4 linked regions of the Homo sapiens genome follow. The protein of the gene in region 2 interacts with the protein of the main gene of each other region in a pairwise test. Each region holds a gene or a part of one and is shown on either strand. Other genes may lie near its edges.

Region 1 (3,568 bases), on a different chromosome or scaffold from region 2:
GCAGGGGCGAGAGCAGGCCTCAGTTTCCCTGCTCCAGGCTCCCACTTCACACGTCCCAAGGCACACCTGGCCCTCCCCAAGCACCCTGCACCCACAGCCTGCCTGGTACCACCCATCCATGCTGATGGCAGCAGCTCCTGGGCACTCGGGGCCTCAAGGGCCAGAGGGCGGGACCTTCTTCAGGTAGCAGGTGAGACAAACGTTTTAGAAACAATAATGACCAAGGGCCAGGGAGTAAGGGCCCGAGGCGGCCGGGGCAGGCTTCTGTCTCCTGCCTCAGGCTCACGAGGCCCTGACTGCTCAGAAGAGGCTATCCATATCCTTCCTAGCTGACCCTGTGTCCAGGGGAGGCATAGGGCCGCATGGACCTCCGCTCCCCACTCCTGTGGGGCCGTGACCAAATGGATGGAGACAGGCCAGTGTGGCAGGTTTCTTCTGAACACAAAAAACCACAGTGTGATGTGTCCACCAACAGAGAAGCTTGCCCTCCTAGCCCCAGCCAATGACCCTGTGAGTTACAGCCACAAGGACTCTGGCCCCAAGGGTGACTCTGAGGGCAAGGACACGCTGTGCACAGTGCAGCAGGCCCCATCTGGGAAACACAAATGGCTCAGTTCCTCTCCCATTTTCAGCGCCCCAGCCCACAGGCGGGTCCTTCAGCCCCAGCCCCACACCCATTCAGGGACCATCCCCTGAAGCCCAAGGCATGCCTCCATCATGAGCTCCTCTGCCCATGGCCCAGAGAGGGTGTGTGACTTGCCCAGGGCCACAGAGTCATGACACTGGCCAGGGTCTGTGCTAGCTGACTGGAAGACCTGCAGAGCAAGCTGCCCTGTGCCTGGTTAGCAGCGGGGACAGATCCCGTCAGAGGCCCAAGCATGCAAGGGCTTGGCACCCTGCAGATGGGGTCTCCCATGGTGTAGCCTGTGCCTGTGTGTGTATCGTGCAGGCTCCAGAAGACGCTGATGAGCCTTAGAGCCTGCTGGTCATGTCTGGAGCCACCTAGCCAGCGCTGGGCCTAATGACTGAGGGAGCAGGCAGAAGTGGTGTGAGGCCCCTCGGTGGAAGGGCTGCTTCTGGGCTGGTGGAGGGTCCGGGTCACCTGCCTGGCTCCCACCTGGGAATGCATGCAGGCACCAGGCCTCGATCCAGCCTGTTCCTGGACAAGGGCCCTGGCTCCTCAGCTCTGGGGGTGCAGAACACGGGGAAATGCGAGGGAGGGAGCACAAAGCGGGGAGCTCGTGGCCAGGCTGTGAAGTGTTTCTGCTCAGTTCTGTCCGCCCCTGCTGTCAAAGCCTCCAGCTTCATGGCAGGACAGACTCTACCTGCCCTCACCCTCCTGCTCACAGTGGGCGGCTGCAGCCCCAGAAGACGCAGCACTCAAAGCTGGGGTTGCCACCTGCCACGATCCTGGCCTGCAGTGACGGGTGGGCACGAGGGCCCCGATTGACCCGAGGGCTTTCCCCTCCTGGGAGGAACTCATTCCTCAGCCGCACACAGTGGTCTGACCACACCGTGGGTCTTGGCAGCCAAGCTCGAGCGGCTGCCACTAGGGCACATAACTGCAAATGCCAGGTCAGCACCAGAGCACAGAGGGATGGAGGTGAAGCCGGCACCTTGGGAAGGGCCAAGACATGGTCTACACCAACCCCATACCCAGGTCCCCTGGGCGTTCAGATGGCCCCTGGCCACCTGAAGGCAGGAGCCTGGTGGTGAGGGCAGCCATGGGCCACAGCCACAAGGCTCCCTTCTCTAAGTCCCTTCTCCCTGGCAGCGACGTTTCTGAATGACAGCCTCCTCACCCCTGCAAAGCTCAGGGCCTCTGCCGTGGAGGGGCTGGAGCGTCTACCTGCTGCCCTCCCGATGTGGCCTGGTGCCCCCTCCCCTCCCCAGCACCGTCACGGTCTGCAGGTAGGAGGACACGGGTATATCACCCCTGGTCTCTGCATGGGCCATGCCCTTCACTGGAATGCCAGTGTGAGTGACCGCCCCTTGGTCAGACCTCTCCACCTTTAAGACCCAGCTCAAAAAGATAAGCGGTTGCCAGTGCAGGAGTGCGAGAAGAGCCCAGAGCACCCAGCAGGCACATGTAGTATGCACAGTGGGCCGGCTCTAGTAGCCCCAGATGGCACGCGACCTACTGACCATCACGGGTGGGGGTGGCAGCAGGCTCAGTTACCACGTGTCCGACGGCAGCATCCTCTCTACACAGCTGAGGGGACACAGCTGAGGGGAACAAAGGCCTCTCTGCCTGCGCCTGCAGGGGCAGTGTCTTGAGGGGACAGTGAGACCCCAGGGCAACTGAGGCAGAGTTGGGGGCCAGAGACAGGGAGGAGAGAAGAGGGCTCGATTTTCTGGGTCCAGCCATTGAAATGACTCGGGTTTTTTGTGTGTGAGCCACTTAGAGAAGCCGTGAGCAATTTACTCTTTGGTTTCTGAAAAAGCTGGGAGGGTGAGCTGCTGAAGACAGACACTCATTTGAAAGCCATCTAAGTCCGGGGCCCTCAGAGGACTGGAGGGGAAGCTTTCTCCTTTACTGCCCCAGGCCTGGCTCTCTCCTCTGCCAAGGCCTTCTGTGCACAGGAGGTCTAGCAGGCACCAACAGGGGCAACGGCAGGGGAAAGGGGCACCTGAGCCAGCGAAAGCCCTCATGGTCCCTGGAATGACCAAGCCTGTCAGCCTCACCTGTCCTTCCTGCGCCCATGTCCCACATAACCCTTCTGGACCAAGGCCTCCCGCTGCAGGGACAGCTGCTGGGGAACCACACCAGGGAGGCGGGTGTGTTCAAAGATATTAGCAGTGCTGGCCCAGCGGCTCTGCGTCTTGTAATAAAATGGCGCAACGGACACTGCACCTGGGGGAGCCTTAGGAGCTGACCGAGGCCCCTGCCCTAAGGCCCAATGGCTTACGCTGTCCCCACGGCTCCCTGTGCACCTTCTCTGCTCAGAACATTGCCATGCCCTGGGTCCCCTTGTTCTGTCCCCTAGACACGGCCTGTGGTATAGACAAAGGGCCAGCCAGACTCTAGAAGCTGCCTGTGAGGCCAGCAGCCAAATGTGGGTGTTCCTGCCCCTTTCTGCAGATGTGACAGCTGATCCAGGCAGGGTGACCTGCCCTTGGCCACCGTCCAGTTCCTACCTACACCTGCCTGAACGGTATGGAAGCCACTACCTGGCACGCCCCTCCATAGCCGGTGGGACTCTTTAGGAGCCAGAGGCGTCCAGTCCCATGCCCAACACGCAGAGCCCTCCCCTCCCCTCTGCCTTGTCCCCTTCCCTCTGCCAAACACTGCAGGCACTGCTGGCCACAGGCACGTCCTGGCCATCCTCTGGTCTGGTGCCCCAGCTGCGCCTTGCCCTGTCCCACCTCCTGTGCTCCGTCCTCTTTCCTCCATTGCATGCGTTGCCAGACGCATCTGCTGTTTACTCTCCAGTCTGTCATCTGCCAAAAGGCGGGGTGGAGGTGTCAAACAGAAGCAGGAAGAGGGCGGGGTGTGGCGAGGTGCAGAGGACTCCCCAAATGGCCCACCCCAGATCTAGGCAGCTCTCTGACATGTGCTCTCTGGAGG
Region 2 (3,376 bases):
TTCCTAAGAGTCTGGGTAAAATTGAACATAGCCATATTCACTGAACAACATGAGTGAGCTTCATTAATTTAAGCACAGCAAAACTGCTTTAATTAACAAGACCAGAGAGAAGGGAGAGGAGACTACATTTGTGTGACCTAATGGTTGTGATTTCACTGTCCAAGAGGACAAAGACAAAGAAATTCTGGGAAGGAGAACAACAATTATATTCCCCCATTTCAAGAAGGGCAGAAGTGTCCCAACACTACCCAATATTTGCAAAATTCAAATGTCTCATAGGCTCTTCTTCCCTGGTTCCCTCAGGAGCTGGGTTTCTGGGTTGCAGAAGTGCTTTTCATATTCTGTATCTGGTTGTGGTGGCAATGTCACCACCCTACACTGCTGTGACACCGAAACAACCAAGCCTAGAATCAGCTGGTGCCTCTTTTCATCTGCAGGGTAGATTTGGCTTCCATGGTTGTTCACTGCTCTGTGTTAGGAAGGCTCAGTGACAGGTGTACAGCCTTCAGTAATGCCTCAAAGGTTCTCCAAGCAGAGGTAAACATGTGGGTCCTGCTGGTGACATATTAGACTTCTTACTTTCCCCAAATAAAAAAGTGCCTGCTGGGCGCGGTGGCTCACGCCTGTAATTCCAGCACTTTGGGAGGCCGAGGCGGGCGGAACACAAGGTCAGGAGATCAAGACCATCCTGGCCAATATGGTAAAACCCCATCTCTACTAAAAATACAAAATTAGGAAGGCGTGGTGGTGCACGCCTGTAATCCCAGCTAGTCGGGAGGCTGAGGCAGGAGAATTGCTTGAACTGGGGAGGCGGAAGTTGCAGTGAGCCAAGATCGCAGCATTGCACTCCAGCCTGGGCAACAGAATGAGATTGTCTCAAAAAAAAAAAAAAGTGCCACATGCCATGCTATGTGCCCAAAGTTTCCTTCACACAACACAGCCTTGAGATGCAGTATTAAATTCTACACTTTTCCTACCATAGTGATACATGTGGCTTTTCTTTGCTGTGTTCTGAGATGTCATGCTTTGAAATCAGTGGCCATTATCATCTAAGGATTCCGCCAGAGACTTCCAAAAGAAGAGGTCTCATTTATAAAGTGAATTTGAATAAAATGACCAGTTAGGTGTTTTCAGAAACACCTATGCCCTACTTGCCTACTCTTCAAGGGTTTAGGGGCTTAGGGGGAGGTTTTGTTTGGGTTTTTTGTTGCTGTTGCTTGTTTATTTGTTTGTTGTGTTTAAGACGTTTTACTTGTCCCTGAAATGTTTGTCATCACACAGATACACGCTCAGGATAAGAACTACCAGACTAGATTAGGAGGTCCACACCACCAATTGAGATGTACCTGTGCTCATGACTTGACATTGTGGTGGGCCGGCTACAACCCTCCCCACCCCTCGCTTTCACTAAATAACAACTCTCTTCTCTCCATCATTTTGACTTAGAGCCAGTCAGAATTCAATCTCCAATATCCTGACTAGCACAAGAAATCCATAGGTTGATTCTTGTTCTCCTGCATCTCTGCAGGTGGCAAACCTGATTCCTAATGCCTGTTCCTGCCTCTGCAGGGGTTCATTCAGAAAACAGGAAAATAACAAAGGCTTCCTGTAATTCTCTTTGGCTGTAATACAATTTGTTCCCGTCTGCCCCCAGGCTCACCCAGTGCTCTGTCTCAGTGGTAAGCTGTAACTGATCACTGCTGTATTAACTCAAAACTCATTTGCTTTATGGAAATTCATGGCCCTTATTTCTCAAGGGACCAGAGAAAACCAATAGGCCTACTCCCCAGCTGAGTACTTTCCATGCAAGCTACCGCATCTGTATAAATTAGGTTCAAATAACAGAGTATTTCCAGGATTTATAAATTCAGTATTACAAATAGTAATCTGGCAAGTGTTCTCAGGATCCCCTTGCTACCTGTAATTCAATCATATAACTTCTGAATGGGCTGGGGGAAAATAACAATAAGAAAAACTGGTGTTTACCTGAAGATCTGCCCAGTGATTTGTGTGTTTTCTTAATAAACTTTACCCACTTATTAAAAGAATAAAATGAAGGTGGAGTTAATTCTGACTACGGGATTCCTTTTTCACTTTTATAATGAACTCCTTCCTTCTAACTAAATCTTATCATAAGCAAATCTATGCACCAAATTATTTAGTACAATTCCTAATAACAGCTGAAGGACCATTTATTTGAAGCAATGTTCACCATAGCAAAATTCCAGTGAAGTCTAAGAACTGGGACAGTCCGTTGAGGATCCTTGTGCCAGGATGTATGTTGCCCCATGAATGTGCACATGCATATTAAAATATGGGCACCTCTTTTAATTCTTTTTTTTCTCATAATAAGTTTGAAACTCACAGTAGGAAATTGAGAGATCAATTTGGTTACTGTTTTATCATTGATCCTGAAGACAGTTGAAGCAATCATACTGGTTGTTCTCGAACTAGCTGGTTTCCCAGAGACAGCTGGAGACTGAGCACATAAAGACATCATTGAGGAAAAAGGCTACCTTGTACCTCATGGAGAGCTGAAGGTCTGATAAATGGGAACTGCCAGGTAATAGCTATGCTATTTCTGACATAAATTTAAAAACTAGTATTGTTTCTTCTAGCTCTGTTTTTGCATAGTGCACAGAGATCTTTGTAAAAAACAGGAAATTAATGTTAAATTGGATCTATAAACATAAGTCAATTTGGCTCTATTATGTCAAAAGAGAATAGGAGTTTTAACTTATATCTGTGTTTTATTAATATTTTGAAGTATAGGAACCTCATGGTGTAGCAGGATGAGCCACAGACAAAACCTCTCAGACACCGAGTTGTAGAAGGAAGGGCTTTATTCAGCTGGGAGCATCGACCAGCTACTGTCTCAAAATCCAAGCTCCCTGAGTACACAATTTCTGTCCCTTTTAAGGGCTCACAACACTAGATTTCACATGAAAGGGTCGTGATTGATTTGAGCAAGCAAGGGGTATGTGACAGGGGCTGCATGCACCGGTGGTCTGGGAGGAACAGAACAGGACAGGGAGTTCTTCTATACAATAGAGAACAGAACAATGTTCTTCTATACAATGTAAGGAATCTATGAATAACATCGGCTTCTAAATCATAAGTTGATTTTTAACTACTGGGTTTAGGCCAGGCGGGCCCAGGCCTGGTTTCGGGCCTGGCGCTGAGCTGCCTGTATTTGGTTTTACTTCCTTGTTGTTTTTACTGAATATGAAACAATATAAAACAATGTGAGAGGGTCTTTCTCTCCTCTCAATGTCAACATCATATATGATTGGAGACTTCCACATAATTGAGTTTTAGTGCCCACTGTTACAGAAAATCATAATGGAAAAACTAAAATGTCAATAATAATTTCAGA
Region 3 (3,568 bases), on a different chromosome or scaffold from region 2:
CATCTATGGCTATTCTTGTCCCTTCACACTTCCACATGTATCTTATATACTTACTTCTTAAACACGTAGAGCCTGCCTGCTGGGATTTTAAGGCTGAGCTGAACTTGCAGTTCATTCTGGGGTGCTGTCCTCTTTATATTGCATCCTATAATTTGTGGGTGTGGGCTTATCTATTTAGATGTTCTTTGTGATCTCTGTAGGGGTCTTCCATCTCATATATTACCACCTATTTCATATTTTTCCATGCCGTTGTAAATGGTATCTGTTAAAGTCTTAGTTTTTACTTGTTGCTGGTATATAGAAATGCGTTGATTTTTGTTTTTGTTTGTTTGTTTGTTTGTTTGTTTTTTAGACGGAGATCTCACTCTCTCACCCAGGCTGGAGAGCAGTGGCGCGATCTCAGCTCACTGCAACCTCCTCCTCCTGAGCTCAGGTGATTCTCCTACCTTAGCTTCCCGAGTAACTGGGATTACAGGCATGCACCACCACACCTGGCTAATTTTTGTATTTTTAGTAGAGATGGGGTTTCACCATGTTGGCCAGGCTGCTCTCGAACTCCTGACCTCAGGTGAGCCACTATGCCCAGCCTGATTTTTGGATAATGAATTTGTGACTAGTATCTGTGCTAAAGTTTTGCTAGTTGCAAAATTTTTTTTTTCTATAGAATCTCCTTGATTTTTCTGTGCACTTCATATTATTTTTCTTTCTCCAATTACCTTTTGTTTTTTTTCTCGTCTCACTGGACTGGCTAGGACCCTCCAGCTCATTGTCTTACCTCCGATCACACAGGGAGAACTCGGAATGTTTTGCCAGTGAGCATTATGTTTCCTGTTGTCTTTAATAAATACCCTTTATCTAGTTAAGGAAATTCTCTTCTTAGAAGACTTGTAAAAAAAAATCTTTTAATCATGAATTTTTTTAAAATAGCTTTATTGGCTGGGTGCAGTAGCTCACACCTGTAATCCCAGCACTTTGGGAGGCCGAGGCGGGCGGATCACGAGGCCAGGAGATCGAGACCATCCTGGCTAACATGGTGAAACCCCGTCTCTAAAGAAAAAATACAAAAAAATTAGCCGGGCATGGTGGCAGGCGCCTGTAGTCCCAGCTACTAGGGAGGCTGAAGCAGAAGAATGCCGTGAACCCAGGAGGCAGAGCTTGCAGTGAGCTGAGATCGCGCCACTGCACTCCAGCCTGGGCGACAGCAAGACTCTGTCTCCAAAAAAAAAAAAAAAGCTTTATTAAAATATAATGTATAGCTGGGTGCAGTAGCTCATGCCTGTAATCTCAGCACTTTGGGAGGCCAAGATGGGCGGATTGCTTGAACCCAGGCATTCGAGATCAGCCTGAGCAATATGGTGAAACCCTGTCTCCATAAAAAATATAAAAATTAGCCAGGGGTGGCGGCACATGGCTGTGGTCCCAGCTACTTGGGAGGCTGTGGCGAGAGGATCACTTGAGCCTGGGAGGTTGAGGATGCGGCGAGCCATGATTGCATCACTGCACTCTAGCCTGGCCGACAGAATGAGACCCTGTCTCAAAAGAAAAAAGATATTATTTTATGTACCATATAATTATGCCAGGTAGTTCACCATTTAAAATGTACACTTCAGTAGTTTTTAGTATATTTACAGGTTTGATGGTCATGCTAGTCAATTTTCAAACATTTTCATCATCCCCCAAATAAATCCTACACTCATTAGCATTTGCCCAGTCCTCTTCCTCCCCACTCCTAGGTGACTAGTAATCTACTTTTTGCTTCTATAGATTTGTCTATTCAGGATATTTTATATAAATAGAATCATACATCTGGTCTTTTGTGCCTGACTTCTTTCACTTAATGTAATGTTTTCTTTTTTCTTCTTCTTCTTTTTTTTTCTTTTTTTTGAAACAGAGTCTTGCCCTGTCGCCAGGCTGGAGTGCAGTGGCGCGATCTCGGCTCACCACAACCTGCGCCTCCCAGGTTCAAGGGATTCTCCTGCCTCAGCCTCCCGAGTAGCTGGGACTAGAGACACGCGCCACCATGCCCAGCTAATTAGCTAATTTTTGTATTTTTAGTGGAGACGGGGTTTCACCGTGTTGGCCAGGATGGTCTCCATCTCTTGACCTTGTGATCCACCTGCCTTGGCCTCCCAAAGTGCTGGGATTACAGGCATGAGCCACTGCTCCCGGCCTTTATTTCTTCTTTAAAAAAAAAAAAAAAAAAAGGATGCATATGCAGAACATGCAGATTTGTTACATAGGTATACGTGTGCCATGGTTTGCTGCACCTATTGACCCGTCCTTTAAGTTCCCTCCCCTCACTCCCACCCCTATTAGGCCCTGGTGTGTGTTGTTCCCCTCTCTGTGTGCATGTGTTCTCAGTGTTCAACTACCTGCCACTTATGAGTGAGAACATGCAATGTTTGGTTTTCTGTTCCTTTGTTAGTTTGCTGAGGATGATGGCTTCCAGCTTCATCCATGTCCCTGCAAAGGACAGGATCTCATTCCTTTTTATGGCTGCGTAGTATTCCATGGTGTATATGTATCACATTTTCTTTATCCAGTCCATCATTGATGGGCATTTGGGTTGGTTCCATGTCCTTGCTATTCTAAGCAGTGCTGCAGTAAACATACCTGTACGTGTGTCTTTATAGCAGAATGATTTATATTCCTTTGGGTATATATCCAGTAACAGGATTGCTGGGTCAAATGGTATTTCTGGTGTTAGATCCTTGAGGAATCGCCATGCTGTCTTCCACAATGGTTGAACTAATTTACACTCCCAGCAAAAGTGTAAAAGCCTTCCTATTTCTCCACAGCCTCGCTAGCATCTATTGTTTCCTGACTTTTTAGTAATCACCCTTCTGACTGGCGTGAGATGGTATCTCATTGTGGTTTTGATTTGCATTTCTCTGATGATCAGTGACGTAGAGCTTTTCTTCATGTTTATTGGCCTCATAAATGTCTTCTTTTGAGAGGTATCTGTTCACCTCCTTTGCCCACTTTTTGATGGGGTTGTTTTTCTCTTACAAATATGTTTAAGTTCCTTGTAAATGCTGGATATTAGCCCTTTGTCAGATGAGTAGATTGCAAAAATTTTCTCCCATTCTGTAGGTTGCCTCTTCACTCTGATGATAGTTTCTTTTGCTGAGCAGAAGCTCTTTAGTTTAATTAGATCCCATTTGTCAATTTTGGCTTTTGTTGCTATTGCTTTTGGCATTTTTGTCATGAAGTTGTTGGCCGTGACTGTGTCCTGAATGGTATTGCCTAGGTTTTCTTCTAGGATTTTTATGGTTTTGGGTTTTACATTTAAGTTTTTAATGCATCTTGAGTTAATTTTTGTATGAGGTGTAAGGAAGAGGTCCAGTTTCAGTTTTCTACATATGGCTAGCCAGTTTTCCCAGCACCATTTACTGAATAGAAGATCCTTTCCCCATCGCTTGTTTTTGTCAGGTTTGTCAAAGATCAGATGCTGGTAGATGTGTGGTGTTATTTCTGAGGTCCCTGTTCTTCTCCATTGGTCTGTAGGTCTGTTGTGGTACCAGTACCATGCTGTTTTGGTTACTGTAGCCTTGTAAGTGTAGTTTGA
Region 4 (3,568 bases), on a different chromosome or scaffold from region 2:
CCACAGTGCCTGACTCACACCCAACTTGGGGAGACTTGGTTTCTAGGTGCAGAACCGCTAGGCAATGACCCCCCAGCAGTGTGTCCTTCCCAGCCTTACTCCTTGGAACAAGGCATGTGCTCGAAAGGCAGTTTGCAAACACTTAACAGTAAAATGCCAACATTTGTTCAGAACGGACTTCACAAACGCCGTGTGGTCGAGAAAGCACTCACTCACTTTGCTGGGTTCGGCAGAGATGCCTCTTATCCCAGATTTCTGGGAGGCTGGAAGGACCCTTCAGAGAAACTGCCTTTCCTCCCGAAACCGTGAAGGGCAGTCCTTTCCTCCAGAGAGGATGCTCTTGGTTGATTAAGCTGCAACTCAATTATAAATACTTTAGCCCCAACTTGGGAATAAAATGGATATTATGCACTTCAACTGACAAAGTTATTTATGTTTTTGCCTCATTGGTTGGCAAGACGTTCCAGTTGGGGTTAGAGCATTTGTTTCAATAGCTCCTGCGTGACAGGACTACTTCAGTCCCGCTTTGCTGCCATCAGACGCTGCTGGACTCGCACGGGGAGCGCAGAGCGTTTAATGCTGGGACATCAGACAGAACAGGGAACTGATGAAAGCTTCAGAATGAACATTGAGTCCACGCAAATCTGATGCTGCCAAACTTCAGAGAACCTGGGTCTCCTGGTCCACACGGAGATCAGACGAGGGGGACACTGAGTGCCTGGCAGCCCTTCCACTAGGCGGTCCCCCGGGATGAGGCGAGGCCCCACCCTCCAGCTCCACCATCCAGTCCAGCACCGTCCTTGGCCGCGGGCACTGCTGTCCTTGCCTGCGGACCGAGCGCCCAGCTCTTCAATACAGCACCTGGTCCTCGCTTTCAGGAGAGGATGCGTGGAGACAGGCGAGGTGGACGTGCCAATAAGTGACCCAAACAGTGCCAAGCTCGGCGGCAGATGGCGCAGCCGCCGGTTTCCAGGACAGTTGTAATCCTTGGCCCTCATTCGGCCTCTTCCCGTCACTCACATGGCGCGGCTTTCCTGGCCTCGGCGGTGTGGACGGGGGGCCTTGGCCATGGTTGCAGGACCCCAGCTCCAGCTCAGGTCAGCGTCTCATCCCAGGTGAGCTAATGAAGATCTGCAAAGCCACCAGAGTTGCTGAGGAGAGAAGAGGTGTTTGTGGCACTTCAGCGTGGGCGCAAAACAGAGGGAGCATTGCAGGACGTGCATCAGACGCTGGGCCCGGGGACCTGTGAGGCCACCATGTCAGCCTCTCTGAGACGGTGGCAGTCGAGGCCCGTGGCGGGGCTGGGGCTGGTCCACAATCAGCTTGACAAAGTAAGGTGGTGGCGGCCAGCCAGGCCCAGGGCCCCTGGGTGTCAGCAGGTGAGCAGGTCAGGCGGGCATGGCCCGGTGCTGCAACACCTCTCCAGCGCCTCGGTGCCTCCCCTCCCCAAGGGCTGGGGCGAACCAGGCTTGGCTTGGACCTGTGCTCAGCTGCACTGGGGCCTCTCGGGCAGCAGGCTGGACACCCAGCTCTCAGGAGGGGTGTGGGCTTGTCTGCAATGCAAGAACAGGAGCCAAAAGCCAACCTTCTTTTACACCAGATTCACCTGTGGTCATTCTTCTGACCTTGCCCAATGCGCTCAGGGATGACAGGTGGACAGTGAGCCACCCCCGAGGGCGGTGGCGCCTCCAGTGTCCCCTGTCAGACTTGGCTCCTCAGATGCTGGTTTATTCCTTGACACCGGATGGGGAAAATATTCTGAGATACTATGTCCAGCGTGCCCACAGGACCTCCCCTCACGGCTGGTGGGAACAATGCACCCTCCAATGGGCACCTGGGGAGGGTCTCTGGCCAGCAGCATCTCCAGATGGAAGTGGAGGGGAAGGGAGCCCCAGGGCCTGGAGGAGGAAATCCTCATGGCCAAGGGGGCGTGAGGGAAGGGGGCGGTCACTGCAGTCATCAGTGGGTAGGGATTCCTGATGCTCCATCCTTACTTAAAATTTTTCTCTTAATTAATATTAAATTATCCTGATTATGCTGGGTCTTGTTTTAATTTTTGCCTAGGAGTCTCCTTGGACTGATTTTTTTTTTCTTTTTGAGACAGAGTCTCGCTCTATTGCCCAGGCTGGAGTGCAGTGGCGCAATCTCAGCTCATATAACCTCCGCCTCCTGGGTTCAAGCGATTCTCCTGCCTCAGCCTCCTGAGTAGCTGGGATTACAGGTGCCTGCCACCACGCCTGGCTAATTTTTTTTTTTTTTTTTAGTAGAGACGGGGTTTCACTGTGTTGCCCAGGCTGGTCTCGAACTCCTGAACCCAGGCAATCCACCTGCCCCGGCCTCCCAAAGTGCTGGGATTACAGGCGTGAGCCACTGCGCCCGGCCTGAATTTTTTTTTTTTTTTTTTTTTACATTCACCCAGTGTGCCCCTGCTGAGCCTTGCTTAACGTTTCTGTCACTTTATGTGGGTTGCCATTCAGAAATACATGTAGTTGGATTTCATTTTTTATCTAATTGGAGCCTTAATGCATCTGTTTAATGTGCACTGTTTTGACCAACATATGTGATCTAACCTCTGTCATCTTTGTTGTTGCCTTTTTAAACGCTTTCTTGCTGTTTCATTTATTTTAACTTAATGTAGGGACCACATTTTCTCTTTAAAACCTCTGCAGTGCTTTGGAATGTGCGTGCTCTTTGAAAACATGATGTAAGCTCTACTTGCCAGAGTTGAAAATGATGCAGTGTATTTCCAGTCCTTGCCAACACACTTCCAGGACTTCTGCACACTTTATACTCTTCCGACTCCTCTCCCATCTTTTGGTCTTTGTAATTTTTGAGACAGGGTCTCGCTCTGTCGCCCAGGCTGGAGTGCAGTGGAGCGATCACAGCTCACTGCAGCCTCAACATCCCGGGCTCAAGTGAGCCTTCTACCTTAGCCTCCTGAATAACTGGGACTATAGGTGTGTACCACCACACTTGGCTAATTTTTTTTTTTTTAAGACAGGGTCCCACCATGTTTCCCAGGCTAGGAAGAGAATTCAAATAATAAGTATAAAGAAGTGATATGAGAAAATCACTGGGAAAATTGAGATACTGCATTGTTTTGAAATCATTCATCACTTCATTTATGAATATTTTTGGCCGGGCGCAGTGGCTTATGCCTGTAATCCCAGCACTTTGGGAGGCTGAGGCAGGTGGATCACGAGGTCAGGAGTTCAAGACCAGCCTGGCCAACATGGTGAAACCCTGTTCTCTACTAAAAACACAAAAGTTAGCCGGGTGTGGTGGTGGGCGCCTGTAATCCCAGCTACTCTGGAGACTGAGGCAGGAGAATTGCTTGAACCCGGGAGGCGGAAGTTGCAGTGAGCCGAGACTGCACCACTGCACTCCAGCCTGGGTGACAGAGTGAGACTCTGTCTCAAAAAAAAAAAAAAAAAAAAAAATTTCACGGAGAATGCCTTCAGATCCACTTGTAAATTTAAGAGACACTGCAAAGTTGCTAGTGCTGTTGATTTATTAGGACTAGTGAGTGCAGTCAGTGAGCTGAGGTCTCAGGCTGGTGAGAAAAACC

The links.
Region 1: the proteins of OPRM1 (region 2) and HS6ST1 interact in a two-hybrid assay, tested with the Homo sapiens proteins (one large-scale study listed by BioGRID and IntAct).
Region 3: the proteins of OPRM1 (region 2) and NELFA interact in a two-hybrid assay, tested with the Homo sapiens proteins (one large-scale study listed by BioGRID and IntAct).
Region 4: the proteins of OPRM1 (region 2) and CPLX1 interact in a two-hybrid assay, tested with the Homo sapiens proteins (one large-scale study listed by BioGRID and IntAct).

The regions. Positions count from the first base shown.
Region 1 is NC_000002.12:128,270,336-128,273,903, forward strand, and holds part of HS6ST1 (heparan-sulfate 6-O-sulfotransferase 1), read right to left. Parts: intron 1-3,568. UniProt on the Homo sapiens protein: 6-O-sulfation enzyme which catalyzes the transfer of sulfate from 3'-phosphoadenosine 5'-phosphosulfate (PAPS) to position 6 of the N-sulfoglucosamine residue (GlcNS) of heparan sulfate.
Region 2 is NC_000006.12:154,126,229-154,129,604, forward strand, and holds part of OPRM1 (mu-type opioid receptor), read left to right. Parts: 3' UTR 1-3,376. UniProt on the Homo sapiens protein: Receptor for endogenous opioids such as beta-endorphin and endomorphin. Receptor for natural and synthetic opioids including morphine, heroin, DAMGO, fentanyl, etorphine, buprenorphin and methadone.
Region 3 is NC_000004.12:2,002,474-2,006,041, reverse strand, and holds part of NELFA (negative elongation factor A), read left to right. Parts: intron 1-3,568. UniProt on the Homo sapiens protein: Essential component of the NELF complex, a complex that negatively regulates the elongation of transcription by RNA polymerase II.
Region 4 is NC_000004.12:816,086-819,653, reverse strand, and holds part of CPLX1 (complexin-1), read left to right. Parts: intron 1-3,568. UniProt on the Homo sapiens protein: Positively regulates a late step in exocytosis of various cytoplasmic vesicles, such as synaptic vesicles and other secretory vesicles.